Linked DNA regions of Homo sapiens. The protein of the gene in region 3 purifies or fractionates together with the protein of the main gene of each other region. This does not show direct contact. Each region holds a gene or a part of one and is shown on either strand. Other genes may lie near its edges.

Evidence for each region.
Region 1: the proteins of SLC5A5 (region 3) and SFXN5 purify together in Homo sapiens (affinity purification with mass spectrometry; 2 studies listed by BioGRID and IntAct, with this or other methods). This does not show direct contact.
Region 2: the proteins of SLC5A5 (region 3) and ATL3 purify together in Homo sapiens (affinity purification with mass spectrometry; 2 studies listed by BioGRID and IntAct, with this or other methods). This does not show direct contact.
Region 4: the proteins of SLC5A5 (region 3) and SLC19A2 purify together in Homo sapiens (affinity purification with mass spectrometry; 2 studies listed by BioGRID and IntAct, with this or other methods). This does not show direct contact.

The regions. Positions count from the first base shown.
Region 1 is NC_000002.12:72,998,152-73,006,174, reverse strand, and holds part of SFXN5 (sideroflexin-5), read left to right. Parts: intron 1-444; exon of another isoform or gene 445-1,784; intron 1,785-4,596; coding exon 4,597-4,650; intron 4,651-5,687; coding exon 5,688-5,744; intron 5,745-7,160; coding exon 7,161-7,226; intron 7,227-8,023. UniProt on the Homo sapiens protein: Mitochondrial amino-acid transporter. Transports citrate. Does not act as a serine transporter: not able to mediate transport of serine into mitochondria.
Region 2 is NC_000011.10:63,668,110-63,676,700, forward strand, and holds the start of ATL3 (atlastin-3), read right to left. Parts: upstream 3,227-8,591; coding exon 3,181-3,226; intron 1-3,180. UniProt on the Homo sapiens protein: Atlastin-3 (ATL3) is a membrane-anchored GTPase that mediates the GTP-dependent fusion of endoplasmic reticulum (ER) membranes, maintaining the continuous ER network. It facilitates the formation of three-way junctions where ER tubules intersect.
Region 3 is NC_000019.10:17,888,609-17,896,361, reverse strand, and holds the end of SLC5A5 (sodium/iodide cotransporter), read right to left. Parts: intron 5,477-7,753; coding exon 5,361-5,476; intron 2,650-5,360; coding exon 2,485-2,649; 3' UTR 1,188-2,484; downstream 1-1,187. UniProt on the Homo sapiens protein: Sodium:iodide symporter that mediates the transport of iodide into the thyroid gland. Can also mediate the transport of chlorate, thiocynate, nitrate and selenocynate.
Region 4 is NC_000001.11:169,462,386-169,468,944, reverse strand, and holds the end of SLC19A2 (thiamine transporter 1), read left to right. Parts: intron 1-108; coding exon 109-301; intron 302-692; coding exon 693-834; intron 835-2,967; coding exon 2,968-3,096; 3' UTR 3,097-5,036; downstream 5,037-6,559. UniProt on the Homo sapiens protein: High-affinity transporter for the intake of thiamine. Mediates H(+)-dependent pyridoxine transport.

The DNA.
Region 1 (8,023 bases), on a different chromosome or scaffold from region 3:
TGTCAGGGATGTCTTCTCGTGGCAACCTCAGATGCTCAGCAGGGCAAGCAGGAAGGCATGAGGCCTCTGAGCCAGGGCTCAGAACTGACACGCTGCCACGTCCTCCCACGTGCTGTCAGTCAGAGCAAGTTAGATGACCAAGCAGAGCCAAAAAGTGAGGAAATAAATTCCTTCTGTGATGAGGCCGTGGCAAGGGTATGGGTGCAGGGAGTGGGAAATAATCTGGACCAAAGACTCAATCTCCCACCCCCACCCCCTGCAATTAGGACTTAATAAAAGGAGTCAGGAGTGCATTGTCCCAGTCCAGCAGAGATCTTTCCCTGGCCAATAATTATCTAATAATTAGGAGTGTTATTCCACCCTGGGGTGTGGGCCCAGCTTTGTGCTGAATGCCATGGCGGGGGCATCAGAAGAAGAGGGAAAAGCCCCAATTTTGCCTTCCAGAGCTCTGTTCTCTGAGGGATAAGACTTGTGTTCCCGAGATGGAGATGAGACGATGTTCAGTGGTGTAATGCTGACTATGGAGCTCAGAGAAAGAAACCAGCAAAGGCCAGGAAAGAACTACATGGGAGGAGAAGAATGGCACTGGCAACCGGCATCCAGGGAGCGCTTGCTGCAGGCTGCATGCTGAGGCGAATTTCCTCCACACCTTACTTCCTCTCATAACCATCCTGAGAGGTACTGGGATTGTCCTTCACTTAACAGGTGAAGAAACAGAGGCACAAAGAGCTCCAGTGACTTGCCTGTGGTCACATAGCTGGTAAATGCTGGCACCAGCATTTGACAACCAGAGCCTGAGCGTTAATCACTAGGTCCATGGTAGGACACCCAAAATGAAGGGGAGCAGCAAAGGTACAGACGGATGTGCAGAGAGCACAGCTGCCAGGGGGCTGGAGCGGCAGAGGGGACTTCAGCCATGTTATGAACTATAAATGGGAGCAGAGATAGGATGTGTGATTTGGCCAAGGTCCTGCAGCGCGATAGGGTGGAGGCTGGGCTAGAAATCATAGCTGTTGGCTCCTGTTTCCCTCTCCTTCCACTTTCCTTGGTACCAGCCACATTCTGGGCGCTCTCCACCCGTCTGCGTGGCCACGCCTGAATCGTTTCCCTCTTGGAAGAGGTGCAATCCACTGGCATTGAAGCTGGGTGGACTGGCTCCCTCTCTCTATCCATCTCTTTCTTCCTTTCCCCTGCCATGTTCTGGAAAGGGCAGCGGGAGGGAATGTGGGCAGGTTGCACCAGAGATATACATCTGAGAGCTGAAGGGAACATTTATTTTTAATTTAGACTTAAAAAGAAAAAAGGAAGTTATAAAATATCTGCTCTTGCTCCTGGGATTGTGCAGATGGTGCTGCGTTTTGCCTAATAGGGAATTGGGCTGGCATCCTCGTGCTTTTGGTCCCCGCCTGACTGTAAGGACCTGGAGGGCAGGATCCCTGCTTCCCTGCCTCAGCCTCACATGGCCCCCTAAGGCTCCATTTGGCCGATGCAGCTCGGTGTTCCTGTCTTCTAACCTCACCCTCTCCACACTCCCTCTGGTCTCCCAGACCTCCTCTGCAGTCAGACCAGTCTCTCTGCTGTCTCGGCTGTCCCTGCTCCTGTGTCGGCGCCCCCTCGGCTCACTCCTACCTCCGCCTTCGTTAGATAGCCGGGACACACTCACCCCTCCCTTCCTAAACTCCTGTTTGGATGTTAAAATTTATCAACTTTACACATAACCAAATACCTCATTAAACCATCTTGTCATTTTCAAGCCTCGGTGTTATAAAGGATGTCATCCTCCATTTTCTTGTCTGGTTTTTGTTTTTATTGTGGTTAAGGAGTGTGTGTGTGTGTGTGTGTGTGTGTGTGTGTGTGTGCGCGCGCACTCATTCCTCTCCTCTGGCTTTCTCCATTGGGAGCAGCAAGGAACTTGGTACGTAGAAGCAGCTCCTCATAAATGGATGCAGAGTGCTGATTGGATCTCCCCTCTCTCTGCGCTCAAGGGGATGAGCTGGAGAAGGAGTACCCTAAAATCAGAGTCCGGGCCCCCAAGCCAGGAACCAGGAGACCTGATTCTCTAGCTTGCTATGAAGCTATGGACAGATTACTGAATTTCTCTAAGCCTCAGTTGTCCCGTTTGCAAAATATCAAAAGTAATCTCTGCTTTGATCCCCAGGGTTAGTATGAGGATTATGATAAGTGAAATGCGTGGCAAAATCAAATCAGTCAATCCATCTCTTTAAGAAAGAATGAGGAGACTCATAGCAGTCAGAGGTGCCAGCATGGACTCCAGACCCATGTTAGGGTAGGAGGTTGGGATGCAAAGTGGGGATTGTCTAACAAAGTAAAAAGCTTGCTGGTCACAGAGCCATGGGCAGTGTGTATGTGTGTGGTACATAGCCCAAATACTAGTTTGGTTTGTTCTGGAAAAGACTTGATGTCACTTTTAAAAATGCTTGCCACTAAAGATAAATCAAGTGAAGATGAAAATGAGACAAAGGGAAGGTTAGGGAAGGGAAGATAAAATGAAGCCAGAAGTGAGGTTTGGGCACAGAATCCATGCAGTGTGGGTCTGTACACTTGGCAGATGGGGCTGTGGAGAGCTGGCCTGAGCTTCTGACGGTGCAAAGAGACTCAGTTGAATGGCTCAGTGTCTGCAAGGCACATGCACACCAGTTATTCAGAGGCACAGTTCCTGACCCTGAGACTGGAAAATATTTCCCCCAAGAGGATTATAAAGGGAACCCTGTGGTGTCACGGGCAGTGTCCTGGACAGCAGTTGTCTGGTAAATGCAGTGAGTGCTATTGGGCTGTATCTTACGATGTTCCTGGTGGTCCAAGTACAGTTCGAGGGGTAAGTGGGGATTCAGAGGAGAAGACAGTGTAGTCCATAAGACACCGTGTTCAGTAGACTCCAGATCAGGGGATGACGTGCTGGGCTCCAAACAGTGAACAGCCTTATTAACTTCCTCCGGTGGTAGAAGGCAGTCAGGCATGCATACGTGTACACATAGGAGCACATGTACTCTTCACCCACCCCCCTGTCCCATCCCCACCCCCGCTAGGCTCAGCTCCCTCCCTCTGGTCTGGCTTCTAACTGGGGGCCCCAACTACGAGGAGGTCCTCAGTTTCCTGGGATACTCCTTAGCAGATGGGATCCCATTACAGAAAAGACCGTCTCTGTTGACTTGACACCTACTACCCAGAATTTGGAAGTAGAATTTTAAACTGAGGTCAGCCCCTTCACTTTCATAGTTTAAGAAAGTTAGTGCCCCAAAGGGGATCATTTTCTGCCAGAGATCACATGGGGATGGAGCTGAATCTAAGACCCAGGTTCCCCTGATTCTCACTCTAATTCCCTAAGCTGCCACTGCAAAGAAAAAAAAAATCAAGTTGGGATCTCATTCTGGGGGAAAAATCTCATAATTCCTCGTTGGAGCTATGGAATAGCTTTATATTATATAATTTTATTCAAACTGATATGAGCCAATAAATATAGATTGTGTGTGTGTGTGTTAGCTGTTTTAAAACATTTTAATGTTTAAAACATGATTTACTAATGCTGCTGGGGATGTCTAGAATTTGATTTACTGCATATTATTGAGTGTTTATACTTGTTCCTTACAGAAATTCTTGCCAAAGAGCCATTTTATCTACAGGAATAATAAATAAGTCAATATGTGGATGGTTGTGCACATTTTTCCCATATGCAGTGGGACTTGGTAGATGTTACTTTGCACACAAACACTCAGAAGGTAAACTGGAGAGATGCACATGGATCCCTGAAGTCCAAGGCTTGGCCAGTGTCAAAATCAGACCATTCATCTTGACTTAAACCAAAAACACGGTCAGCAAGTCTAGGTCTTAGGTGATATTTGGGCTTTGGGAATAATGGATCTACATGTTCCCATACCTAGCCATATGTGTATATGTGTATATTTGTTCATTTCTTCATTCATTCCTTTCTTCACTCATTCAACAAATATTAGAAATCTATGTTTCATTCAGTTGCTTAAACCTGGTATAGGTTTTTGCTTCATGGAAATTCACAGATAACAGATACAAATTCCCCCAACTTGTATTTACAAAGCACTTAAGGCCTTTGAAATGATTTTTGTTTAATCCTCGCAAAAATCCTACGGGAAGGCTAGGGTGAGCAGTCAGGTAACCTGAGTGGAAACGAAGGTATTCCTTTTGTTTGCTTGTTTTTATTGCCCCCCTAATTGTGGAAATAATACATGTCTGTTGTTTAAAAGAATACAGAAATATTTAAGATTGTGCAAAAGTAATCTGCAACCCAACCTCCAGAGACATCCACACTACAGGTTTTTTCATGCTTGAAGATAATGTGTGTATGCATGTGTTTGTGTATATCGTTATATATAAAATGATTTTTCTTTAAATAAATAAGATTATGCTGTAATATAATTCTGCAACTTGGTTTTTTCCCATCACACAGCCTCTCCCTCAATGAACCTCAGTTTGTATGTACACGGCATACCACATCAGTTTGTACAGATCCAGCTCACTCATTTGTGGTAGCGTATTTTTTCTTTGCAAAAGCATAGGATGTTTCTTCTGCCTTTTTCAGCATTTCTTCTCTCTTGCTCATAGGTAGTCGGTCTTCTCTTGCCCAACCAGACACTGGCATCCACTGTCTTCTGGCAGGTAACAGTCTCGCAGCAAACAGGGCTCCTGAAGGAAGGGCCCACACAGGTGCTGGTTAAGAACTCCCTGCTGTGGTGTCTCCTGCCCCGTCCAGACCCCGTGTAGGGTCAGTCCACCCCAACACCACCCCTAGCCCAGAAGCCACTGAAGGAAAACCAGGACTTTGGCCCTGCTGAGCAGGTCTCCAGCAGCCCAGCATGTCTCAATCCACCATGTGTCACTCTAACCTTTGGACAGAGGTCATGAGGGCTGCGTGCCCCTGCCTGGAACATGCTGGCTTGTCAGTGGGGTGGCCCCCACTCTGCCCCTTGGCTGCTCATCCCAAGGCCAGTGACCCTGAGGCCCATAGCCTCATTTTGACATCAGCCTCCCCCACATCTGCTGAGGAAGCTAAATCCACCCCTAACCTGAGGTTGTGAAGTGCATCACAGACCCTGGTCCCTGCTCTTGGAGACAGTCTGGGTTGTGATGCCATGAAAACTGAGGATATCTCTGTGTTTGTGTGTGCAGAGAAAGACGGGCAGGAAGGAAAACCTGTCTGTCTTCTAGGAGAAAATGTCAGTCTTCCCTGAACTAAACTCCTGCCGGCCTCTGTGTCTGGGAACTGGAGGTGCAGGATACTGGACTGGGAGATTTTTGAAAGAATTGTAGGGCTGTCAGTCATTCTAGGCCAACTTTTGTCCAGCAGGTAATATAATAAAGATGGTGTGACAAAGGCAGTGGGGTCTGCAGGGGCAGTGAATGCCATCATTCCAAGAGAGGTGACTGTCTCAGGATCAGGTGGACTACTGGGGTGCGCAGGACCCCATTCAGGAACCGAGAGACTTCCCGAGAGGCAGGGCTTCCAGTGCTAACACCAGCACAGCCCTGGGCAAACCAGGACGGTCAGTCATGCTGACCGGCAGCATGGGCGGCACCATGTGAGCTGGAGACCGCATGCTGTGCCTTTCTGGGGATGTGTGGCCTCCTGGGGTCCAGGCCTGGCTTCCAGGGAGGTGACCACTCCTTCCCTGACTTCTCTCATCATTGCCTTTCAGTGGCTGAACCAGAGCCACAATGCCTGTGTCAACTATGCAAACCGCAATGCGACCAAGGTGAGCATCACTGCCCTCTCCCCAGTGGTGGGGTTCAGGCTAGGGAGGCCCAGTCATCCTCCCTACAGCGTGACATGCCACCATCAGTGGCTGCCTCTTGGTTAAGCATGGCCCTCCTCTAGATATCTTATTTAAAATGCCAGCCCTTCAGGTGGGTGGCCGACTCAGACATGACTCAGCTGAGGTCAGCTGCAGTTTCTGGGCCAGGAGCCCTCTGGGGAGGGGCTGTTTACATGAAGTGAAGAAGGCCCATTAAATGGGAGCAGTGCAAGGGATGAGTTCGGCTGGCTTTCAGATTCTTCTTGGGTAGCTCTTACATTTGGGTTTTGGATCATGATGGTATCAGCTACTTGGGGGCAAAATTCCCATAAAGCTTCCTCCAAAATTTCTGGAAGCTGCCTTAGCGCTCCCAGGTCCCGACTGCTGGCCACAAGCTGAAGGGCTGCTCCTGAGTGGGGAGGGTCCAGGGCTGGTAACTCCCCCCCAGAGCCCCTGCACTCCTTGGAGAGCTTGTGGTGGAGGCCCAGTCACCCTTCTGTTGTCCAGGAAGGGCTGCTGGGCCCCTGCTTTGCTGGCAAGGCCACCTCTCCCCAACTTCAATTCAAAGGCAAAGAAGGCAGGATGCATCTAAGTCCCCTTTGGGGGCCTGTCAGTTTGGGGTAGAGGAGAGTCCTAACATTTGCTCACCTTGGGGGAGAGGAGGGGAATAGGAGCTGGCCTGGGCCATAGGAATTGAGAGGCCTGATATGCTGTGGCTGCCCCCTGACATCTAAACCTCCACCCCAAGTCTCTCTCATAGGCTTCACATATGGCCATCTCTGCTTGGATGACTCCCTTTATCTTAAACCAGACACTTCTAGACCTGCAGTTGTAGCACAGGGCAAGTTCCTTAGCTTTTTCTTAATTGTCTGTGTTGGAACTTGGGGTATATTATTCTCTAGAGATATTGGGCAGCTATCATCTGTTGACATGGGAGCCCAGCTGTTCCATGGGCTGGCAAGGCCTGTGAGAGCCTTGACACTGGCATTTCCACCTAGAAAGCGCTCCAGATGCCAAATGGCCCCCTTGAAACATTTAGCCTCTAAACTGAAGACTGCTTGCCCCAGCCTTCAATGGTCCATGTTAGCCTTGCTGTTCTCCACCTCCACCCAGCACTGTCTGCCAGTGACCTTTCTAGAACAGGGCAGGAGTGAAGTGGGCCCTTCAGTATCTCCCTGGATACTGGTGATTTATATTTCTGCATTGGGAACTGAGCTGAGGGTGGCCTGATCCCTTTGAGTCCTGAGGGGCCTCTTCCTTCTACCCACTTTCCAGGCTGGTGGGCAGGATGCTTCTTGCTGGCTGGGACAGCTTACAAGGGGAAGTATGGGAGCTTTGGGCACCCAGCAGGCCTGAAATTCTGCCTCTGTTTTCCAGCCTTCACCTGCATCCAAGTTCATCCAGGGATACCTGGGAGCTGTCATCAGCGCCGTCTCCATTGCTGTGAGTACTCCCTCCCCTGCTCCTTCTTGGCTCTGCTGCTCTGGGGCCACCCCGCTCAGCATTGCAGGTGGATGCTTGTCTGAGGGCCAGGCCAGGCAAGGATTTGGGAGACAGGTTTCTGTGGGTGGAGGAGTCAGGACAGGCTTTCCAAGCCGAGAAGAGGCTCCAGTAGACAGAGCACAACCTGGTGCTCCCTGTAATGGAGAGCAGGTGGGGAGGTGAGGTTGTGCCTGGGGGCACTGAGGCAGGACATCTGTCTTGAGTGGGGCTGCGGTTGCCCAGCACTCTGCTCGGAAGAGCTGCTCCTCATGCTCGGTAACGTGGCTGGAGCGAGCGGGGTGGGGGGATGCCTCTGAATGACTCTGCAAGGCCTGCCCATGTGCCTGCTCCCCTGAGCTCTTGCTCAGCTGCCGGGGCACTGCTTTTCCCTCTCTATGGCCTTACTGGTGTCACACGTCCAGCTCTTCCTGAAGACCTGTCAGTGCCCGAAGCCAGGGGCGTTAGGCTCACTCTGAGTCTCCACAGTACTTTGAGGCCAGAGCAGCTACTCAGTAGGGGAGGTTCAGAGACTGAGCGTGAGGGTACGGCAGGTGTGGCTCCCTGCTTCCCAGAGGAGGCCAGGGGCAAGTGACACAGTCAGGGCCCTGGGCCAGAGCCAGAGTGGACGCTCAAGCTGCCAGGACCTTCTGCATGCTTGTCCCACCCCTGAGCCCGCCCCTGTACCTACGTCTGGCTGTCTCTGGATCCCCACTAGGATGGCCTTCTATAGCCGACTCCAGAGGGCGAAGGGCCCCTTC
Region 2 (8,591 bases), on a different chromosome or scaffold from region 3:
AGTAGATTCATGTATGACTCAGGGTAAAGTTATGACCTGAGTTTTCCAGTCTCCTTATAAAATATCATATTCTCCAAAGGGCAAGAGCAACACACCCAAAACAGAGGCATACCATTTTCATGCCTTGTTCTTGCTGGCAGTCTTTAAGGTTTCTAACTGACAAAGCCAGAGAAAACATCATCACAGGCAAGAGTAAGTATACTAAGACCTTAGCCAACTCTAGAACTGCTGGGTGTGGTTCCTTCTGGTGGTGGAGGGGTGGGTGCTTTTATATACCGTTTTGTCTTAAGGCAGTGATTGTGCCAGTAGATACACTGCAATACGCTTAAGGCTGTTTCAGTGAAAATACTATTTAAATCTAATTAACCAGAATACTGGGCAAATTTTATATTTGTCTGTTGTAGAAAATCTTTTCGCCATAGCACAGAAGGCTGAACAAAACCATATTTTTTGTTGTTGACTAAGGATTGTGTAATGCTTCATAGGTTTACAAAAATTATCTATGACTAAATGGTACTGAAGATTCAGAAAATCCAAGGAGAGGGCTGAATCTGAAAATGATGCCAGGCTATATCACAAGTGGAGGAAAAAAACCTTTTTAATGGAATGAGCTCAGTAACACTTTTGTATCTCTTTCCTAAGAATAAGAATGCCACCAAAGGTTTGAATTAGCTGTGTTCCTTTTTTTTTTTTTTTTTTTTTTTTGAGACAAGGTCTCACTCTGTTGCCTAGGCTGGAGTGCAGTGGCAAGAACAAGGCTCACTGCAGAAAAAAGAAAAAAAAAAAGGCTCACTGCAGCCAACTTCCTGGGCTCACTCCATCCTCTCACCTCAGCCTCCTGAGTAGCCAGAACTACAGGCCTGCAACACCACGTTGGCTAACTTTTTTTTAATTTTTTTTTGGGTGGGGGGGGGCGTCTCACCATGTTGGCCAGGCTGGTCTTGAACTCCTGACCTCAGGTGATCCACCTGCCTCAGCCTCCCAAAATGCTGGGATTACAGGAGTAAACCACAGCTCCCGGCCAAGTAAGGATTTCCTAATTAGCGCCTACTATACCAGGAAAGCCTGTCTTCTAATCTGTTAACATACTTCAGCTGTGAAATATATCTAAGGTGTTCTGACAATCGAAATACCACGCAACTGGGCCAGGCGCCGTGGCTCACACCTGCAATCCCAGCACTTTGGGAGGCCGAGCTAGGAGGATCACCTGAGGTCAGGAGTTCAAGATCAGCCTGGCAAACATGGTGAAACCCCGTCTCTACTAAAAATACAAAAATTACCCAGGCGCGGTGGAGGGCGCCTGTAATCCCAGCTACCTGGGAGGCTGCGGCAGGAGAATCGCTTGAACCTGGGAGGCGGAGGTTGCAGTGAGCAGAGATCGCGCCATTGCACTCCACCCTGGGCGAGAGAGCAAGACTCCTTCTCACCAGAAGAAAAAAAAAGAAAAGAAAAAGAAAATTAAGCTAGTACACAACACCACATCTATCCCGTTACTTCTATTTCATGAATTCTACTACAATGAGGTAGTAAACTGTAGCTAATACAATAATGGGCCGGGCACGATGGCTCACGCCTGTAATCCCAGTACTTGGGAGGCCGAGGAGAGGAGGGTGGTTCACCTGAGGTCAGGAGTTCGAGACCAGCCTGGCCAACGTGGTGAAACCCCGTTTCTACTAAAAATACAAAAAATTAGCTGGGCCTGGTGGCGGATGTCTATAATCCCAGCTACTCGGGAGGCTGACGCAGGAGAATCATTTGAACCCAGGAGGCGGAGGGTGCAGTGAGCCGAGACTGCGCCACTGTACTCCAGTTTAGGTAGCAAAAACGAAACTCCGTCTCAAAAAAAAATAGCCGCGCATGGTGGAGAGCGCCTGTAATCCCAGCTACCCGGGAGGATGAGGCAGAAGAATTGCTTGAACCCAGGAAGCGGAGGTTGCAATCAGCCGAGATCGCGCCATTGCACTCCAGCCTGGGTGACCAGAGCAAAACTCCGTCTCAAAAAATAATAATAAAACAATGTGCTGGACTACTGCAATACTGAGATCCTTCTCAGCCAAGTGTTTACAGGTGTTAGAGCGGCAACAGGAATTTCTGGAGTACAAGCTAATCTCTGTGGGAATGGAAAAAAAAAAGCACTAATTTGAATTTCAGTACCTATGTTGCAATGCTAAATTCTTGACAGGGATTAGTACTCCGTAGGTTATGCTTCTTAAATCTCCAAAAGTAAGCCAATATGTGAAATCGTACATTTTTGGTCCGTTATTCTAAGACTGACAAAACGTTCCATTGCTTCGTATTTGAATTTGAGAACTGAGACTCATTTAAAAATTCTTCACTGTTCTTTTCCTTTTTGCTCTTCGATTTCGCAAGTGAAACGGTCATTTCAACAGCACACACATTACACTAGAATAAAGCCAAGTAAAATGACAGACTAAATCAGATCCGTGAATACACGGTGACTCCTTATTTGGTTTTTAATACTTTCACTATGTTTCATGTCTTCGGGAAAGCAAAAGAACAACGTACTGTGCCAAAAGCACTAACTTACGAAAAACCAATTTAGACCAATTCTTTACAGCGTTAAGTATGGGTTGAAAACCAACTTTCCTAATACTTGTGGTCAGTGCCTCAAGGTCGTTAGGATAAAAATAAAGCTTCCAAGACACTTCGCAGCCTTCCAGCACTTCCAGAAAGGCCAAATAAACCAGCATTCACCTTCCCGCTCCATCCAGGCCCCGATTCTCCGACCAGAGAGGGCGCTGAGTGCCCGGGCACGGAGGGGCAGCGCCCTGGGGCGCCCGGCTCTGCCCAGGGCGGGGCTCGGCGGGGCCGAAGCTCCGGACGCCGCCCACGGGGACCACCGGCCCTTGGGCCGCCCAGGGGCAGCTGCAGCCCAGGGGAGGAGCTGGAGGAGCCCCCGGCGGCACCAGGGCCCGAGCCCTGACGGCGGCCGCCCCCGGCCGAAAAGTAAGGAAGGTGCCGCCCTCGCTGGACCAGCTGGGCCCGAAGAGGGGCCCCCCCACCACAAATTCGGAAACCGAGTGACCCCGGCGAGGGACGCGCGGTCCCAGCCCCGGGACGAGGAAGGGCGGCGGCGCGGGCGGGGGTTCTTTTCAGAACTACAGCAGGGAAGGCGGCGGGGGTGGCCGCGGGGCGATCCAGGGAAAATCGGCGCCTCACCTGCTCCTCTTGAGGCAGCTGCTGCCACTCGCTGAGGGGACAACATGGAGCCTCCGCCTTCAAAGCAGAAGCAGCAGGGGTGCAGAGGAGAGGGACGGGTGCGGGCGGGAACGAACCGGGCCCTGGAAGCGGGAAACGGGCGGAGCCTGGGCTCTAGAAAAAACTAGCCAGAAGGTGGGGCACGCGGAGCCGCGACGGAGCGAGCGCAGCGCGGTCTGCGTGGCCCAACGGACAGCCCGAGGCGTGGCGAGCGCAGGACGAGGCTAGGCGAGGCGGGGCGGGAAAGCGCACGCGGCAGAATCCCGCCACCGCCTGCCGCGTGTGCGCGAAGCGAGCCGCCGGGTACCTGTTGGCGGGGCGCTGAGTGCTACCGTCCTTTGGGAATTGTAGTCCCGCGCTCACTGGGTCCCGGCCAGCGGTCCTCATACTGCGCACTCATCTGGGGCGGGGCTTGGCGTGGTTCTCCGACGACTGAACTACAACTCCCAGCAGGCTGTGCGGGAAGGGGCGGGCTGGCTCGGGTCCTCCTGCGAGCTGCGGCCGGCGCCTAACGTGCAGACCAGGCCCCAGGCCGAGGCTTTATCCTGGAACCACCAGTGTGAGAGACAGCTTTGGTGTTTAACTAGGCCTGGGACCACAGGTGGGCAGAAGAGAGGCCTCAACCCTGGATGGCATGAACGTCACTGGGTCTTTAATGATTTTGACTTCATAAGGGCAGGTGGCCGTGACTTCATTACCACCTTTATTATCATCTCCCTATATTCCTGTCCCTGGCCATGGCTGATGCGCACCATCACCGCTCTGATAGCTAATGTAAGAAGTCCAGGCCGGGCGCCGTGCCTCACGCCTGTAATCCCAGCACTTTGGGAGGCCGAGGCGGGTGGATCACCTGAGGTCGTGGGCGTTCGAGACCAGCCTGACCAACATGGAGAATCCCCGTCTCTACTAAAAATACGAAATTAGCCAGGCGTAGTGGCGCACGCTTGTAATCCCAGCTAGTCCAGAGGCTGAACAGGAGAATCGCTTGAACCCAGGAGGCGGAGGTTGCAGTGAGCCGAGATCGCACCATTGCACACCAGCGTAGGCAACAGGAGCAAAACTCCATCAAAAAAAAAAAAAAAAAACTTGCACGCACATCCCAGCATTCTCTGCTCCTTTTCCCTGCATTACTTTTCTCCAAAAGACTTCATACCACTTGGCCAGGCGCGGTGGCTCACGCCTGTAATCCCAGCACTTTGGGAGGCTGAGGTGGTTGGATCACCTGAGGTCGGGAGTTCAAGACCAGCCAGGCTAACATGGTGAAACCCCATCTCTTCTAAAAATACAAAAAATTAACCAGGCGTGGTGGCAGGCGCCTGTAATCCCAGCTACTCGGGAGGCTGAGGCAGGAGAGGTTGCATTGAGTGGAGATGGCACCACTGCACTCCAGCCTGGGAGAAAGAGCAAGACTCCATCTCAAAAAAAAAAAAAAAAAAAAAGACTTCCTGCTACTATCTGACTTATGTTTTACCTTTCATTGTGTTTGTCTCTTCCCACTGAATGTAAGTTCCAAACAGATAGGAATTTTTGTCTGTTTTGTTTACTTGTATATCCCCAGTCCCTAAATACTGCTGGCAGATAATAGAGACTCAAATATCTATTGAATTAATGGATGAAGAAGATATATGTTACATCTAACACTGCTCACTCACTTTCTGGTTCCTTTAATATTAAATACCTAACTTTTACTATTGAACAAAATACCCTAGTTTATTTTAAGGGCTCCCCAGAGATTCACTGAAATCCAACTTCTCAGGAAGTGACCAGCAAATACTGATATATGTCTCAATATTACATCATCAAGGTATCAAGGTCAATGTTAGCACATCAGCATTGTAGCCCTTGTAGAAGCTTTTGGCATTTGGAACAAAACAGTACAAATTATAGGTGGACTTAAGGATTAGTCACAACTTAGAAAGCAACCCCTGTAAATGAGAAACATGTTTTGTGTTATTTCCTTCTCAAATATCCAGGGTCATCAAAACACTGGACATTGAAAGTGCCAAATATTGACAATACTGGTTACAGCCTGCCTTCAGCTATCTCACTCTGAATTGAGTTATGTGCTATGATCAGAGGTTGAGCTTCCCTTGAGGTTTTCCAGAAGTAGGTGACATGTAGACATATTTGAGTGGACAGACTACTGGCTTTGGGGTCAGACTTACCTGGCTCTGATGTTCACTAGCTATGCAACCTTGGGCGAGCTACTTAACCTCTCTGAATCCATTTCATCATCTGCAAAATGATTTAAAGACCCACACGGTTGTTCTAGGCTAAGTGAGCTGTGTGTTTGGAAATGATGACTGCGTGGTTAGTGATCAAAATTAGTAATCAGCATATTCATTCTGGAAAAGCAAAATAAAGTCATAAATATTCAAGATACTCAAGTGGTTTATGAAACACAAAAATAGCAAAATTGTTTTCTGCAATGGCATCCACCATGACTCAGGTTCCAAAGCTTTCCAAAAATAGGTCATTTGTTATATGCCAGGTACCGTGATAGGCCATAATGCTGCATAAGACACATTCCTATCCTCCAGAGACTCGCAGTCCTGTGGGATAGACAGCTGAGGAAATATCATTCACTGTGACTGTACTGGGACACAGTTCAGCTTTCTGCCCTCTATGTGCAGGATCATTATTTAAGCAACTTGGAAGGGACAAGTTGGAATACTACATCCCTGGGCATCATTTAAATTTCCATACCTTATTTTGCATGTGTGTAAAATGGGGTAATGATTTGGCATCTTCATTTGTAAAAAGAAAATAGCCAACCCCACTTGATAGGGTCTTATAAAGTTGAATATTAGGTCCTCAACATGGTAACATACTGAAAGCTTAAGACCTTGTCAGCTACTTCATTATTGGTATTTCAGCCAACAGCACAGCGGTCTAACTGGGAGGATCTCTTGAGCCCAGGAGTTCAAGACCAGTCTGGGGGCTGGGGGCAGTGGCTCACACCTGTAATCCCTACACTTTGGGAGGCCGAGGCAGGTGGATCACCTGAGGTCAGGAGTTGGAGACCAGCCTGGCCAACATGGTGAAATCCCGTCTGTACTAAAAATACAAAAACTTAGCCAAGAGTGGTGGCAGGCACCTGTAATCCCAGCTACTCCAGAGGCTGAGGCAGGAGAATCTCTTGAACCCGGGAGGCAGTGGTTGCAGCGAGCTGAGATCCTGCCATTGCATCCAGCCTGGGCAATAAGAGCAAAATTCTGTCACAAACAAACAAACAAACAAAACGGTCTGGGCAACATAGGGAGATCCCATGTCTACCAAAAATAAACAAATAAATTAGCCAGGTATGGTGGGGTACCTGTGGTCCCAGCTACTTGGGAGGCTGAGGTGGGAGGATTGCTTGAGCCTAGGAGGTAGAGGATGCAGTGAGCCATAATTGTAGCACTGCATTACAGCCTGAGCAACAGAGCAAACCCTACCTCCAAAAAAAGAAAGAAAGAAAGAAAGAAAGTGGGGGCGGGGGACAGCGCACAGTGGCTCATGCCTGTAATCCCAGCACTTTGGGAGTCTGAAGCATATGGATCACTTAAGGTCACAAGTTCAAGACCAGCCTGGCCAACACAGTGAAACACTGTCTCTACTAAAAATACAAAAATTAGCCAGGCATGGTGGTGTATGCTTGTAATCCCAGCAACCTGGGAGGCCGAGGCAGGAGTATGGCTTGAACCCAGGAGGCAGAGGTTGCAGTGAGCCAAGATCATGCCACCACTGCATTCCAGCCTGGGTGACAGAGCGACTCCACTAAAAAAAAAAAAAAAAAGGCAGTGGGGATGAGGATACAGATTTGCTATATTCACCTTTGCTTATGTTTGCCACAGGAATATCCTAATAGTGGCCAGGCTCGGTGGCTCACGCCTGTAATCCCAGCATTTTGGGAGGCCGAGGCAGGCAGATCACGAGGTCAGGAGATCGAGACCATCCTGGCTAACACGGTGAAACCCCGTCTCTACTAAAAATACAAAAAATTAGCTGGGCGTGGTGGCGGGTGCCTGTAGTCCCAGCTACTTGGGAGGCTGAGGCAGGAGAATGGCGTGAACCCAGGAGGCAGAGCTTGCAGTGAGCTGAGATCGCAGCATTGCACTCCAGCCTGGGCGACACAGCAAGACTCCATTTCAAAAAAAAAAAAAAGAGAAAATCCTAATAGTAGCTACCTATATGTGTGTAGAGGAGTGGAGGGAGTTAGTGATAAAACTTTACAATATATATATTCCTGAATATTTGTGTACGTATATATGAATGATCTGTGACTACATATCAAATTTTTTTTTGAGATAGAGTTTCACTCTGTCGCCCAGGCTGGAGTGCAGTGGCGCAATCTTGGCTCACTGCAACTTTTGCTTCCCAGATTGAAGCGAGTCTCCTGCCTCAGCCTTCTGAGTAGCTGGGACAACAGGCATGTGCCACCAGGCTCGGCTAATTTTTTTGTATTTTTAGTAGAGACAGGGTTTCACGATGTTAGGCAGGCTGTTCTCCAACTCCTGACCTCAGGCAGTCTGGCTACCTCGGCCTCCCAAAGTGCTGGGATTACAGGTGTGAGCCACTGCGCCCGCCCTTCAAATGTCTTAATTTAAAATATATAATTTTTAAAAATTTAAAAATAAAATAAAATATATAATTTTTTCTAAAAGTCAAGAAAATATAGGGTAATTAGATGGCTTAGAAGTTAAACTGGGAAATTATCTGTATAGGCCGAGCACAGTGGCTCAAGCCTGTAATCCCAGCACTTTGGGAGGCTGAGGTGGGCCAATCACCAGAGGTCAGGAGTTCAAGAACAGCCTGGCCAACATGGTGAAACCCCATCTCTAGTAAAAATATAAAAATTAGCTGGGCTTGGTAGCGTGCACCTGTAATCCTAGCCAGTGGGGAGGCTGATGCAGGAGAATTGCTTGAACTAAGGAGGCGGAGGTTGCAGTGAGCTGAGATCATGCCATTGCCCTCCAGTGTGGGCGACAAGAGCAAAACTCCGTCTCGAAAATAAAGAAATTATCTGTATAAGATACCAGTCCTGGCCAGGAGTGGTGGCTCATGCCTGTAATCTCAGCACTTTGGGAGGCCGAGGCGGGTGGATCACCTGAGGTCAGGAGTTCGAGACCAGCCTGACCAACATGGAGAAACCCTGTCTCTACTAAAAATACAAAATTAGCCGGGTGTGGTGGCACATGCCTGTAGTCCCAGCTACTCCAGAGGCTGAGGCAGGAGAATCGCTTGAATCCGGGAGGCAGAGGTTGCGGTGAGCCAAGATCGCACCATTGCACTCCAGCCTGGACAACAAGAGCAAAACTCCGTCTCAAAAAAAAAAAATACCAGTCCTTACTACGTACTCACACATGCACACAAAAATACCAGTCCTATAA
Region 3 (7,753 bases):
GTTGGAATTACAGGCGTGAGACACTGTGCCCAGCCTCCATACAAAGACTCGTACATGAATGTTCATAGCAACTTTATTTCTCATAGCCAAAAGTGGCAAACAACCCATACATCAACTGGTGTATAGATAACAAACTATGGTCCTTTTGCACAATGGAATACTACTCCGCAGTAAACGGAATGAATAACGCCGTGGAAGGATCTCTATACTGCAGCCAGATAAGCTTCTTCTGCTCACTTGGGGGAACATTAGCCCATCCCTACCCCGGGCACCTCCTCCCATCTCAGATTTGGGCTCTGTTTTGAGTGAGGACTACACAGAGGTGGAAAATCTGCTTACCACGTTGCTCAGTCATTGATTTGATTTTATATATATATATACACACACACACACACACACACACACATATACATATATATATATTTTTTTGAGACATAGTCTTGCTCTGTCACTCAGGCTGGAATGCAGTGGCGTGATCTCACTGCAACCTCTGCCTCCCAGGTTCAAGCGATTCTCCTGCCTCAGCCTCCCGAGTACCTGGGACTACAGGCGCCCGCCACCACACCCGGCTAATTTTTGTATTTTTAGTAGAGATGGGGTTTCACCATGTTGGCCAGTCTGGTCTTGAACTCTTGACCTCGAGTGATCTGCCCGCCTCAGCCTCCCGAAGTGCTGGGATTACAGGCATGAGACGCCACACCCGTCCAGTCATCGATTTTAAAGTTGTAATGGCCAGTTTTAAGTCCAAATCTAAAGGTGTCCAATCCCAACAGCGGGCACAGAGGACCAGGTCTCCAAGGGGTGGAGAGAAGCGGGATCAGAAGGTGTGTATGAGGCCGGGCGCAGTGGCTCACGCCTATAATCCCAGCACTTTGGGAAGCTGAGGCAGGCAGATCACTTGAGGTCAGGAGTTCGAGATCAGCCTGACCGACATGGTGAAACCCCGTCTCTACTAAAAATACAAAAGTCAGCCGGGAATGGTGGCACATGCCTGTAATCCCAGCTCCTCCAGAGGCTGAGGAAGGAGAATCTGGGAGGCAGAGGTTTCAGTGAGCCAAGATCGCACCACTGCACTCCAGTCTGGGCGACAGAGCGAGACTCTGCCTTAAAAAAAAAAAAAAAAAAAAAAAAAAAAAAAAAGGTGTATGAGCTCCTGTGGCTGCTGTCACAAACCACTATAGGCCTGGTGGCATCAAACAACAGAAATTTATTCTCTGACAGTTCTAGCAGCCAGAAGTCTGACATCAAGGTGTCAGTAGGGCCATGTTCCCTCTAAAGGCTCTAAGAAATAATGCATCTCATGCCCCCCTCCTGATTTCTGGTTGTTGCTGGCAATCCTTGGGTTCTCCGACTCGTAGATGCATTGATCCAACCACTGCCTCTGTCTTCACGTGGCATCTTCCCCATGTGTTTCTCTGCATCTCTTCTCTACTTCATATGAGGAACCAGTCACTGGATTCATCCATCCTCCTCCAGTAATACCTCTTTTAATTTAACCAGTTACACCTGCAAAGACCCTATTTCCAAGTAAGCTCATGTTCTGAGGTTCTGGGTAGACATAAATTTTGGGGGGACACAACCCAATTCGAGAGCCTCCATTGTCAGGTGAGGAGGGGACGCTAGCATGCTCAGGATGATGGGAGCCATGGCAGGTGTGTGGGCCAAGGTTGGAGGCCATGTGGGGTCTGAATCATCCCCTCCCCAATCCCAGGAAGAAAATAAGAAAGAGGTGGGGCGCGGTGGCTCACCCCTGTAATCCCAGCCCTTTGGGAGGCCAAGGCAGGAGGATCACCTGAGATCAGGAGTTTGAGACCAGCCTGGCCAACATGGCAAAACCCCGTCTCTACAAAAATACAAAATTACAAAAATTACCTGGGCGTGGTGGCTTTCTATTATAGATTGAGAAAAACGGTAGGCTGGGCATGGTAGCTTACGCCTGTAACCCAGCACTTTGGGAGGCCGAGGCAGGTGGATCACTTGAGGTCAGGAGTTCGAGACCAGCCTGACCAACATGGTGAAACCCTGTCTCTACTAAAAATACAAAAAGTTGGCTGGGCATGGTGGTGGGCACCTACAATCCCAGCTACTCAAGAGGCTGAGGCAGGAGAATCACTTGAGCCTGGGAGGCAGAGGTTGCAGTGAGCCGAGATCACACCACTGCACTCCAGCCTGGGTGACAGAGCATGACCCTGTCTCAAAAAAAAAAAAAAAAAAAAAAGAGAGAGAGAAAAACCCAGCCTTATTTGGGGGGAGCCGTCAGGGCTGCAGCGTCTAATACTGGGGACGGTTGAAGCAAGGGGCTGGATTTAAAAAATGACCTCCCGGAGGCAGGGCCTCCCCATAGGGTAGGGTATTGTAGTCCTGAACTCATTTGCATACAAGGCAATCCAGCCAATCAGAGCCCAAGGCCATGGGCCCGTTGTCTGGGTTTGGCCCATCCTGAGGTTCCATCCCAGGGTGTCAGTCCCGCGGCTGGCCCTGTCCTCAGAGGTTTGTCTCCTGCTGGTCTCGACCACCATCATGTCCAACACAGGGGGTCCAAGAGCCAGCCCCCTCCAGCTCCTTCTGCCCCAAGAAAAACAGACGATCCTCATTGGTGGGCAGGAAGCCAGGGGGCTTCTTGTTTCCAGTGGGGAGTTCTTCAGGACCCTGGGGAAAAGTGGGAAAAAGAGACCCCATCAGAGACCCTGTCCCCACCCTGTTCCGTGTCAGCTCATCTCCCAGATGGGCTACTGATGACCTGGCGGGACGGGGCGTGCACAGAATTGCATACTATCCCCTTGCTCAGTGCACGGGCCAGTCCTGCCCGCTCTGCCTCCAAAATTTCCATGCGCTTCTCTTCCCCACTCACATGTCACCTACAGCCCAGGCCATCAACGCTTTCTCAGATGCCTGCTATAGTTCCTCCCTCCTTTCTCTGCTTCTCTGCCTGTTCACCTTCAAGAAAATAAATATTTCTGGCCGGGCACGGTGGCTCACCCCTGTAATCCTAGCACTTTGGGAGGCCAAGGTGGGCAGATCACTTGAGCCCAGGAGTTTAAGACCAGCCTGGCCAATATGGCAAAACCCCATCTCTACCAAAAATAAAAAAATTAACCAGACTCGGTGGTGCATGCCTATAATCCCAGCTACTCAGGAGGTTGAAAGATGGGAGAATTTCTCGGACCATGGAGGTTGGGGCTGCAGTGAGCCATGGTCATGCCACTACACTCCAGCCTGGGCAATAGAGTGAGTCCCTATCTCAAAAAAAGGAAAAAAAAAAAAGACAAAAAAGAAAAAAAACACACAAATAAAACAAAGACAACAAAAAAGAAAAATAAAATAATAAAGAACAAAAAAAGAGAGAGAAAGAAAAAAAAGAAAAGAAGAGAAAGGAAAAGAAAAGAGGAAAGAAAGAAAAGATAAACACTTCTCTAGGGCAGCTGGAGGGAGCTTTAAACACCTTCAGGCAAACCCCTCCCCTCCCAATCCCCTTCTCAGTCAAAGCTGTTCCTGTCTGTGGCTGGTTCCTCTTCTCCTAACTCAGGGTCAATCAATGTCACCTCTCCCAAGAGGCCACCCCTGACTTCCCTGGCTAAAGTTGCTCCCCATCACAGCATCCGGTTTTATTATCCTTTGAATATTTATCATGCTGAGACCCTACACGTTTTTCTTTTTAGCTTGCTCTCTCTCTCTCTCTCTCTCTCTCTCTCTCTCTCTCTCTCTCTCTGTCTTTTCTTTCTTTCTGACAGTGTCTGGCTGTTGTTGCCCAGGCTGGAGTGCAATGGCACAATCTCTGCTCTCTGCAACCTCCACCTCCTGAGTTCAATCGATTCTCCTGCCTCAGCCTTCCGAATAGCTGGAATTATAGGCATGCACCACCACACCCGGCTAATTTTTTGTATTTTTAGTAGAGATGGGGTTTCACCATGTTGGCCAGGGTGGTCTCGAACTCCTGACCTCAGGTGATGCACCTGCCTAAGTCTCCCAAAGTGCTGGGATTACAGGGGTGAGCCATCACGCCTGGCTCTTTCCTTTCCTTCCTTCTTTTCCCTCCCTCCCTCCCTTCCTGCTTTCCTATCTTTTTGACGAAGTCTTGCTCTGTCACCCAGGCTGGAATGCAGTGGCGCGATCTCAGCTCACTACAACCTCTACCTCCCGGGTTCAATTGTTCAATTCTTCTGCCTCATTCCACTGAGTAGCTGGGATTACAGGCACACGCCACCATGCCCGGCTAATTTTTGTATTTTTAGTAGAGACAGGGTTTTGCCATGTTCGACAGGCTGGTCTTGAACTCCTGGCCTCAAGCGATCCACCTCAACCTCCCAAAGTGCTGGGATTACAGGCGTGAGCTACCGTGCCCGGCCTGACAGCATCTGGTTGTATTATCTTTTGAATGCTTATCACATACTGAGACAGACCCTACATGTTTCTCTTTTTAGTTTTCACCTGCCCCTGCTAGATGAGGGTGGGGTGGGGGTCTTAGACCATAGCCCAGAGCAGGACTGGGTACACAGCAGGTGCTCAATAAATGAGAGAATGGAACAGGGATTCCAAAACAGGGGTAGGCATGGGATCAGGTCCCCCAGGGACAGCATTTTCCAAACTCTGGGAATTCACAAAGCAACCACGCGGTTTTAGCCAAAATCGGTTTACCATCTGTTGTGTTTCTTATGTAAGATTTTTTCCCCAAGTTGACTCACTTTTGAATTAAGTAATTTTATTTTAAGAAGAGACTTTACATCAATACCCTAACAGCACACCAGTTTCACCTGCCAAAGATTGGAAGTCACTGTAAAAACAGATAACGACAAAAAGGAATAGTATTCAACTTTGTTCAGTCCTTATGAAGGGAGATAACAAAAACTTGAAGATGAGGCTGGGCTCGGTGGCTCATGCCTGTCATCCCAGCACTTTGGGGGTCTAAGGTGGGTGGATCATTTGAGGTCAGGAGTTCGAGACCAGCCTGGGCAACATGGTGAAACCCCATCTCTACTAAAAACATAAAAATTAGCTGGGTGCGGTGGCATGCGCCTGTAGTAGCAACTACTCAGGAGGCTGAGGCAGGAGAATCGCTTGAACTCGGGATGTGGAGGTTGCAGTGAGCCGAGATTGCACCACTGCACTCCAGCCTGGGCAACAGAGCGAGACTCTGTCTCAAAAAACAAACAAACAAAAAGGAATAGTATTAAACTCTGTTCAGTCCTTGTGAAGGGAGATAAAAACTGTTGAGGATGAATCAGCTCCCAATAGAGTCTTTTGACTGGAGATAATGAGCGATGGAGAAAGGTGCTGATATACCATGTCCCTCCCCTGAGCTGTGGTCACGTCCTAAAGTCACTTGGCTGCCTCTAGATCTGGGAACCCAGCCTAAGACTGACCTTGACCAAGTTGTCATCCAGGATGGCCACTTCTTCCTTGGGGGCCACTGATGCTGTCTGCCGTGCGAGGTCCCACCACAACAATCCCGGGGCCAGGGTGCTGCGCTTGGTGGGGCCTGAGAGGCGGGGAGAAATGGAGAAATCCAGGCATTCAGTGAAGGGGTCATGGGGGTTGGAGACCAGGTCCTGGGAAGGAGAAAGGAGATCCCTGGTCTATGAAGTCTAACAGGCTCCAGTCCCACTAAGGGACCCTGGCAAGCCTCTGAGCCTCAGTTTCCTCATCTACACAGTGAAGTTGTAATAAAACATCAGTGAGGCCAGGTATGGTGGCTCATAATTGCACTTTGGGAGTCTAAGGCAATAGGATTGCTTAGAGTTGCCCAGTAGTTGGAGACCAGCCTAGGCAACATAGCAAGAACCCATCTCTACAAAATATTAAAAAATTAGCCAGGCATGGTGGTGTGTGCCTCTAGTCTCAGCTACTTGGGAGGCTGAGGCAGGAGGATTGCTTGAGCCCAAGAGGTCGAGGCTGCAGTGAGCCGTCATTGTGCCACTGCACTCCAGCTTGGTGACAGAGTGAGACCCTGTTTCTAAAACAAAACAAAACAAAACAAAACAAAAACATCATTGGAGGTTGGGCACGGTGGCTCACGCCTGTAGTCCCAGCACTTTGGAAGACCAAGGCAGGGGATCACTTGACGTCAGGAGTTCGAGACTAGTCTGGCCAACATGGCGAAACCCCATTTCTACTAAAAATACAAAAATTAGCCAGGCGTGGGGGTGGGCGCTTGTAATCCCAGCTACTCGGGAGGCTGAGGTAAGAGAATTGCTTGAACCCGGGAGTCAGAGGTTGCAGTGAGCCAACATCGCACCATTGCACTCCAGCCTGGGCGACCAGAGTGAAACTCCATCTCAAAAAAACAAAACAAAACAAAACAAAGACATTAATGGATGGCTGGGAGGGTCCAGCACACGGTTCCATTCACTGCTGCATCCCCAGTGCCTAAAATAGCGTCCAGCACAGAGGAGGACTCGATAAAGGCCTGATGACTGTGAAGTCTGAGACTCAAGAAGTGTGAGCAGGTACTGTTATCACTACTGACTTTCCCCTCTTTGTCTCCTTCTACTTTTCCGTGGAATTTAGAATTCCCTAACAAGTGCGGAGTCACCGGCAGCTTTAGAAGATATTTCAGCACCAGGGATAGCGCCGCCCGCCCCAACCCATATCCTCTACTGAGGACTTAATCTTGTTGGGGAGAGGAGTTGCAGGCAATGCCTCCGTTTCTGCCTCTGCAAAATAGGGCAAGCTCTGAGAGGTGCAGGGTTGTCAAGAAAGCAACATAGCTTTAAAGGGTGTAAATGTGAGCCGGGCACGTTGGCGCGCACCTGTAGTCTCAGCTACTCGGGAGGATGAGGTGGGAGGATTGCTTTCAGCTCAGGAGTTCAAGGTTGCAGTGAGCCATGATTGTGCCACTGCACTCCAGTCTGGGTAACAGTGAGACCTGTCTCTTTTCTTTCTCTCTCTCTTTCTCTCCTTCTCTCTCTCTCTCTTTCTCTTTCCTTCCTTCCTTCCTTCCTTCCTTCCTTCTTTCTTTCTTTCTTTTAGATGGAGTCTCACTCTCTTGCCCAGGCTGGAGTGCAGTGACGCAATCTTGGCTCACTGCAACCTCCATCTCCCAGGATCAAGCGATTCCCTTACCTCAGCCTCCCAAGTAGCTGGCATTACAGGCGCCTGCCACCATGCCCAGCTAATTTTTTTGTATTTTTAGTAGAGACGGGGTTTCACCATGTTGGCCGGGCTGGTCTTGAACTCCTGACCTCAGGTGATCCACCCGCCTCGGCCTCCCAAAGTGCTGGGATAACAGGCATGAGCCACTACGCCCAGTCGACCCCGTCCCTTTAAAAGAAACTATATATATATACACTTTCTTTTATGTATATATATAGTCATAATTTTTATATATATTCATAATTTCTTTTATGTATATATACACATAAAAGTGTGTATGTATGTGTATATATACACACACACTTCTTTTTTCCTCACAAACTTTTTTTTTCCTTTTAAAAAAATAGGTACAGCCCAGGTGCAGTGGCTCACACCTATAATCCCAGAACTTTGCGAGGCCGAGGTGGGCGGATCACTTGAGCCCAGGAGTTCGAGACACATGGCGAAACTCCGTCTCTACTAAAAATGCAAAATTAGCCAAGCATGGCGGCACACACTTGTAATCCCAGCTACTCGGGAGGCTGTGACATGAGAATCGCTTGAATCTGGGAGGTGGAGGTTGCAATGAACTGAGATCACACCACTGCACTCCAGCCTGGGTGACAGAGTGAGACTCTATCTCAAAAATGATGATGATGATGATGATGATGATGATAATAATAAT
Region 4 (6,559 bases), on a different chromosome or scaffold from region 3:
TTTATAAGTTTGCAGATTTTAAAATTTAATAATCTAAGCTGAGTTTTTAATTTATTGCAACAGCATTTGTGTAGCAAAATAATTGGATTTTTTTTGTTTGTTCTGTAGGTGCTGTTGCTGTGTTTGCAGTTGGTTATATAAAAATATCCTGGTCAACTTGGGGAGAAATGACATTATCTCTCTTTTCTCTCCTGATTGCTGCTGCAGTGTATATCATGGACACTGTGGGTAACATTTGGGTGTGCTATGCATCCTATGTTGTCTTCAGAATCATCTACATGTTACTCATCACGATAGCAACGTATGTATTTTGGCTCATAGAAGCCTTAGGAAAAATTGTAACAGGATAAATTTTTTGGTTTCTTTACAAACCAAAATATTCAAGTTTCTAGTTAAATGAGGCAAATGGGAGGAAGCATTGTATTATATGTGCATTATCAGTTTTTCTCCTGAGGAAGCATTTAGGCAAGTTTTGTTTATTCCCATGTTTGTATGTTCCTACTGTTTTCAGATGTTTGCATGAGATTTATATCATTTAGTTGCAGAATGTTTTCATTTGGTTGGAAAGGCAATTGACAGTAGAAAGAAGGACTCTTCATGTTTAAAGATAAATGTTTACTTTTATTTAGAATAAATATTATAAGTACTCCAGAAGTAATTCTTATTTATTCACTCTTTTATTTTTTTTTAAGTTTTCAAATTGCTGCAAACCTCAGCATGGAACGCTATGCCCTAGTATTTGGTGTAAATACCTTCATTGCCCTGGCACTGCAGACGCTGCTCACTCTAATTGTGGTAGATGCCAGTGGCCTTGGATTAGAAATTACCACTCAGGTAAGATCTCTCCTTTGGCATCGAAGGTAGTATGTGTGACTTGATCAGGGTGACAGAAGTATATGTATGCTTAATGAAAACAAATCCAAACAATAGGGAACAGATGTAAAGTAAAAGCATACCCTCCTTCCTTCATTCAACATCTTCTCCCCTATCCTTAGTTCTTTTCTCCTGGGAGGGTGTTGGGATTGTCAGGTCTTAGAACATTCCCGAGTGTAACTCATCAGCCCAATGGGGCTGTTTCAGCTGAGAGGTAATATTGATTCCTTACAGACCAAGACCTTCTGCTTCCTCATCCATTATTTCCCTCTATACTTAAATCTATGCTTGGAATACTGTATCCCATGTTTGAGATTCCCTGCTTCATCTCACAACTCTTTAAGTCTCCTCCCTTCTTTATTTAAAACACCCCTCACCCAAATACCACGGTAATGCCTTGCTGCTGATGAACAACATTATGATTTGTAACTTATGACTATTGAGAAACTTGCACCAACACCCAACAACAATGTGAATACTTTTTACGTTCAGGAATTGTATAGTTGTATATGCCTTCATGCATTGTGAGTTTTAAGTATATCTTGTTTTGTACTTTGGTAAAATGGGCAACTGAATGAATCAAGAAGTATTTACTCCCACCCCCATCCCAACCCAAATGATTTCTTCCCAACATATTAGCCGTAATTAACTTTGTTTTTACTGAAGCGATCTAAGAGAGAAATAGTAATAATAGACAATGTGCATTGAGTGCCTCTACGTGTCAAGTGCTTTATATAGGATTTGTAGGGTTGCTGTATTAGACATGAAGAAGATGAGTCTGAGAGATGTTAAGTGACTTGTCCATACCATCACTAGTAGTGTTCCAGAGCTTAGAGTTAAACCAACATCTAACCCCAAAACTTATTTCAGGATGGAAAGTAGGAGAGAAACTTAAGTGCTTGCCATCCTCCCTGTATAAGGGAGAGTTCCCAGGACTATTACAGTTGAGGGAAACATGGCTGTCATTGGAAGTGGAAATTTGTCAGCAGATTCTTATAGAAATGGTGGATTTAAACACGTGGAATAATAGGATTTTATGGGTGGTGCTGAAACCCTAACTGCCATGATTGATTAATGGCTTCCTGCAGAAGTGTAGCCAACATTGAAAGAAACTGGCTCAGTGATTTAAGGCCATACTCTCATTGTACTTTTGAACCAGTTTGTAAGTATTTAGTATGTTATTTTAAGAAGATGATGATGATGATGATGTTAATAAACCATATAGTCACATTAAAATTTCGCTTAGGGCATCATCCGCCGCAAACTAACACAGGAACAGAAAACCAAACACTGCATGTTCTCACTCATAAGTCGGTGTTGGACAATGAGAACACATGGACACAGGGAGGGGAACAACACACATTGGGGCCTGTTGGGGGGTGGGAGGCAAGGGAAGGGAGAGCATTAGGACAAATACCTAATGTATGCAGGGCTTAAAACCTAGATGATGGGTTGATAGGTGCAGCAAACCACCATGGCACACGTATACCTATATAACAAATCTGCACATTCTGCACATGTACCCCAGAACTTAAAAAAAAAAAATTGTCTTAGGGAAGAATTCTTACATTAAGTAATCCTGTAATGGAATATAGTTGACCTGCCGCTGCCCTCTTCTGGGGAAAAATAGAGAAGTTCTTGATCTTCAGAATTTGGCCTATTTGTACCCACCTATCAGCTTGAAGGCAGAGACCAGGACTGAATTATAACAATAACAGCAACAACAATAAAAGTAATACTAACAGCATTAGCATTGTGCTAATAAGCATTTATGATCTCACTGATGGGTACCAACATCGCTGTAAAGTGAGAACTACTATGAATTCCATTTTGTAAGTGAAGAAGGGCTCAGAGATGAAGTATCTCAATCAAGTTCACGCAGCTTGTAAGGGATGAAGTCAGGATTCACACTCAGGCAGTCAGGCTTTATTTAGTACCACCGTGCTGTGATGCTGCTTTGTGTCTTCAGGGTCTGGCACGTGGTGTAAGTATGCAATATTTTTTGAGGCTTTATGGACAAATTCTGAATATACTTTATTATAGAGTAATCCTCTTGTCATTGATAATTCAATAAACTGCTTTTCCCCCTTCTAGTTTTTGATCTATGCCAGTTATTTTGCACTCATCGCTGTGGTTTTCCTGGCCAGTGGTGCAGTCAGTGTTATGAAGAAATGTAGAAAGCTGGAAGATCCACAATCAAGTTCTCAAGTAACCACTTCATAATATACTGCTGAAGGGCTTCTTCTTATAGCAAGAACTCTGCACAGCAACTGCCTGGATGTGTTTGATTTTTTAAAGCGTAGACATATATTTATGAATGTGCATTTCTTGACTTCACAGCAGCCACTTGACTAATACCTTGTGTTCCGGGAATAACATGATACTATTCAGAGGAGCCAGAAGTAAAGTTTATTTCATGGATTATTTATGAGAGCTAATTTAAGGATGACTTTTTTTCTGATTCAAAAGTGAACTTGATTTTAAAAACCAGTCAAGAGCAATCAAAGCAGCACATGGTGTTGTATACTTCATTAGCAAGTGAGTTTGGTGTTTTATAGGTCACATATGTCTGTATCTACTTAGCCAGATGCTTGGCCTGGTGGGACCAGGGCTCCACAGAGGCCACAAAATGTTGCAAGTCATGATGGATGGAAATATGTTCTAACAGCATCTGCCTCTATTCAATTTAATTCTTATTTCTGTGTTACTCATGTACATTGGTCTTTCTACATAGTTATTCTATCACTGGCAATATTTGTTCTGGTTTAGTGTTCTGTATTTTAAGGTGTACGTATCATTTCTAATTTTAAGTTATTTTAAAAAAATTCATCATATGAATGTTCTTGGTTCCCATTGTGACGATTATTTATTTCTGTAAAATTTGTTTAGAAGTACGTTTTTGCATTATTCATATGCTTCCCAGAGAAGCTCATTTAGTTAGAAAATAAGGCAAGTTTTGAAGCCTGCTAAATGAAGAGACTTAAGAAAGCTTAAGGTACGCTTGCTTGTCTTTAAATCTTCAATATGAAGGACTATTAATTCCAAGATTAAAAGTTCATATATAGGCTAAAGATGTAACTAGGCCATTTGTATTTGTATTCCCTTTTATTTCCAAAATAAAATGAAAAATCTTTTTTTAATAATTTCATCCCTATTTATAGTTTTTATATTAATTTGTTTTTCTTATCCAAGTAAAGATGTCAATAGGAATTGCATTAGTCCAAGGCCTTTTTCATAAACTGAGCCTCTTTTCAATTATTTCAATGGGACAGGAACTAGGATAGATGTGATTCCTGCATTTTTTTACCTTAAATCTGCCTTTGTTTCTAAAGGTAGATCATCTTGAATATTTGCTTAAAATTGCTAGTGATTTCATTACCAAGTTACTTGAAAAAATGTTCTATATGCATTTAATTCTGAAATCAGTCTACCAAGGGGCTGCTAGTATATGTCAGACATGAAAACTATTTTAAAGCTGACTTTGTTGCCTTATCTTGAAAAGAATCTAGATAGGTGCTTTTAACTGGGGTATTAACTTTTTTAGAATGACACAGCTGAACAGTGTTAATAATAGTGTGTCAAGATTGCAAAGTCGACATACTCATTTGGTTTAAGCAGGAATCCTAGAAGCAAATGGATGGGGATAAGAATAGGTCATTTTCTATTCACCATCCTTTACTATTAAGGGAAAGGAAAAGAACACTAGCTAAGGAAGGGAAAGGGAAGTGATATCATAAAAGTAGCAACCTTCATTTTACATTCTGTCTGTTTTTCTTTTTTTGCTTTGTTTTGTTTGTGCTAATTTGGGAATTGTGTACTCCGAAACAAGTAGAAAAGTGCTGTTTGAGGGATTTTATTAAATCTTTTTTTAATGGAATGTGGTACAAATTGTTCATGTTACCAAAGCAATATTTCCCTGGAATTTAATTCAAAGTTTGTGGCATACAACCTGAGCCTTTTCTTATATAAGACAAGAATATGTTCACATCTTGGTATGTGGCCATATTTATAGAATGCTGAACTCAATGTGCAAGTTGTACTGTATGCAGTTTTGTAAATAAGTGAAAATAATTTGTTGTACTTTTTATTCAATTCTGTATAGATTATAAAATTATTTTTATTAAATAAATATTTTACAGTATATTTTCTCTTTTTAATCAAAATTGTTTTAAATTTATCTTCTATTTCAGTAGGAGCTTTAGATTATATCTTTAAATATTTTAATAATTTATCCTAGGACAAATTTCATATTAAGTCTTCCCCTGGTCTAACTTGCCTAGTTAACCTTTTGTTATCTTTTTAATTATTCCATTGCTTTGTGATTTTTACCTTTGACTCTTCCCCCTTATTTCAGATGTTTTCCCCCTTTTTTTTGGCACCCCGTTGCACTGTTTTTTTTTTTTTTTTTGGTTTTCATGTTGGCACTGCTCTTATCTCTTTTTAAAGCATTCTTCCTTAAAAAAAAAAAAAGACACTCTCTTTGATGTTAACTGAATTTTTACAATAAAGGAAATTAAAGCAAGAGCAGAAAATACCACCTTGTTCTGAAACTTCATAGCCTCTTTGTTCCACCTCAAATTATTCTGATACCCAGGGAGGAATCTTCTTGCCATGAGTTGAGAATCATTTGTCCATTATATCCCAGAAACCTAATCAGTATTTTCTTACAGTATCCAAATGAGTACCATTTTTTAATATACCATTTCAAAATCTACTTAAGGCATTGATTTCGCTGCTTATCACCAAAGTCCTGGAAATTTTTCATGCAAAAATAAATTTTTTTTTTTTGAGACAGTCTTGCACTGTTGCCCAGGCTGCAGTGCAGTGGCAATCTCGGCTCACTGCAAACTCTGCCTCCTGGGTTCACGCCATTCTCCTGCCTCAGCTTCCCGAGTAGCTGGGACTACAGGCACCTGCCACCACGCCCGGCTAATGTTTTGTATTTTTAGTAGAGATGGGGTTTCACGGTGTTAGCCAGGATGGTCTCGATCTCCTGACCTCGTGATCCGCCCGCCTCGGCCTCCCAAAGTGCTGGGATTACAGGCATGAGCCACTGCGCCCGGCCAAAAATTTTTTTAAATATAGTTTTATAGCCCTATAGTTTCATTGCCTGTGTCTTATTACCTTTCAGATTGGAAGCCTTCAGACCAGGGACCATGTCTTATTTTTGTTTTTTGTTGCAAAACAGATTCTGGTGTCATGTGAACATTTAATTATATAAATGGTATGTGATGGACTCAGCCACCTGCCAATACAATAGTTAAATGCTCATCTTTTTAAATTTTTATTTTAAAGAGTCAGTGTTCCTAGGCTGGAGTACAGTGGCACAACCACAGCTCACTGCAGCCTTGAACTCCTGGGCTCAAGCAGTCTTCCTGCCTCAGCCTCCTAAGTAGCTGGAAATCACAGGCGGGTACCAACACACCCAGTGAATTGTTATTTTGTAGAGATGGGGTCTCACTATGTTGTCCAGGCTGGTCTTGAACTCCTGACCTCAAGCGATCCTCCTACCTTTGTCTCCCAAATTATTGGGATTACAGGCATGAGCCACCTTGCCCAGCCTTATTCTTACTGTATTTTTAAATGCAGCCTACAAAATTGGAGTTGTCATTTTTAAAAAGCACATCAGACTGCGGTGGCTCACGGAATCTCAGCACTTTGGGAGGCCAAGGCGGGTGGGTCACCT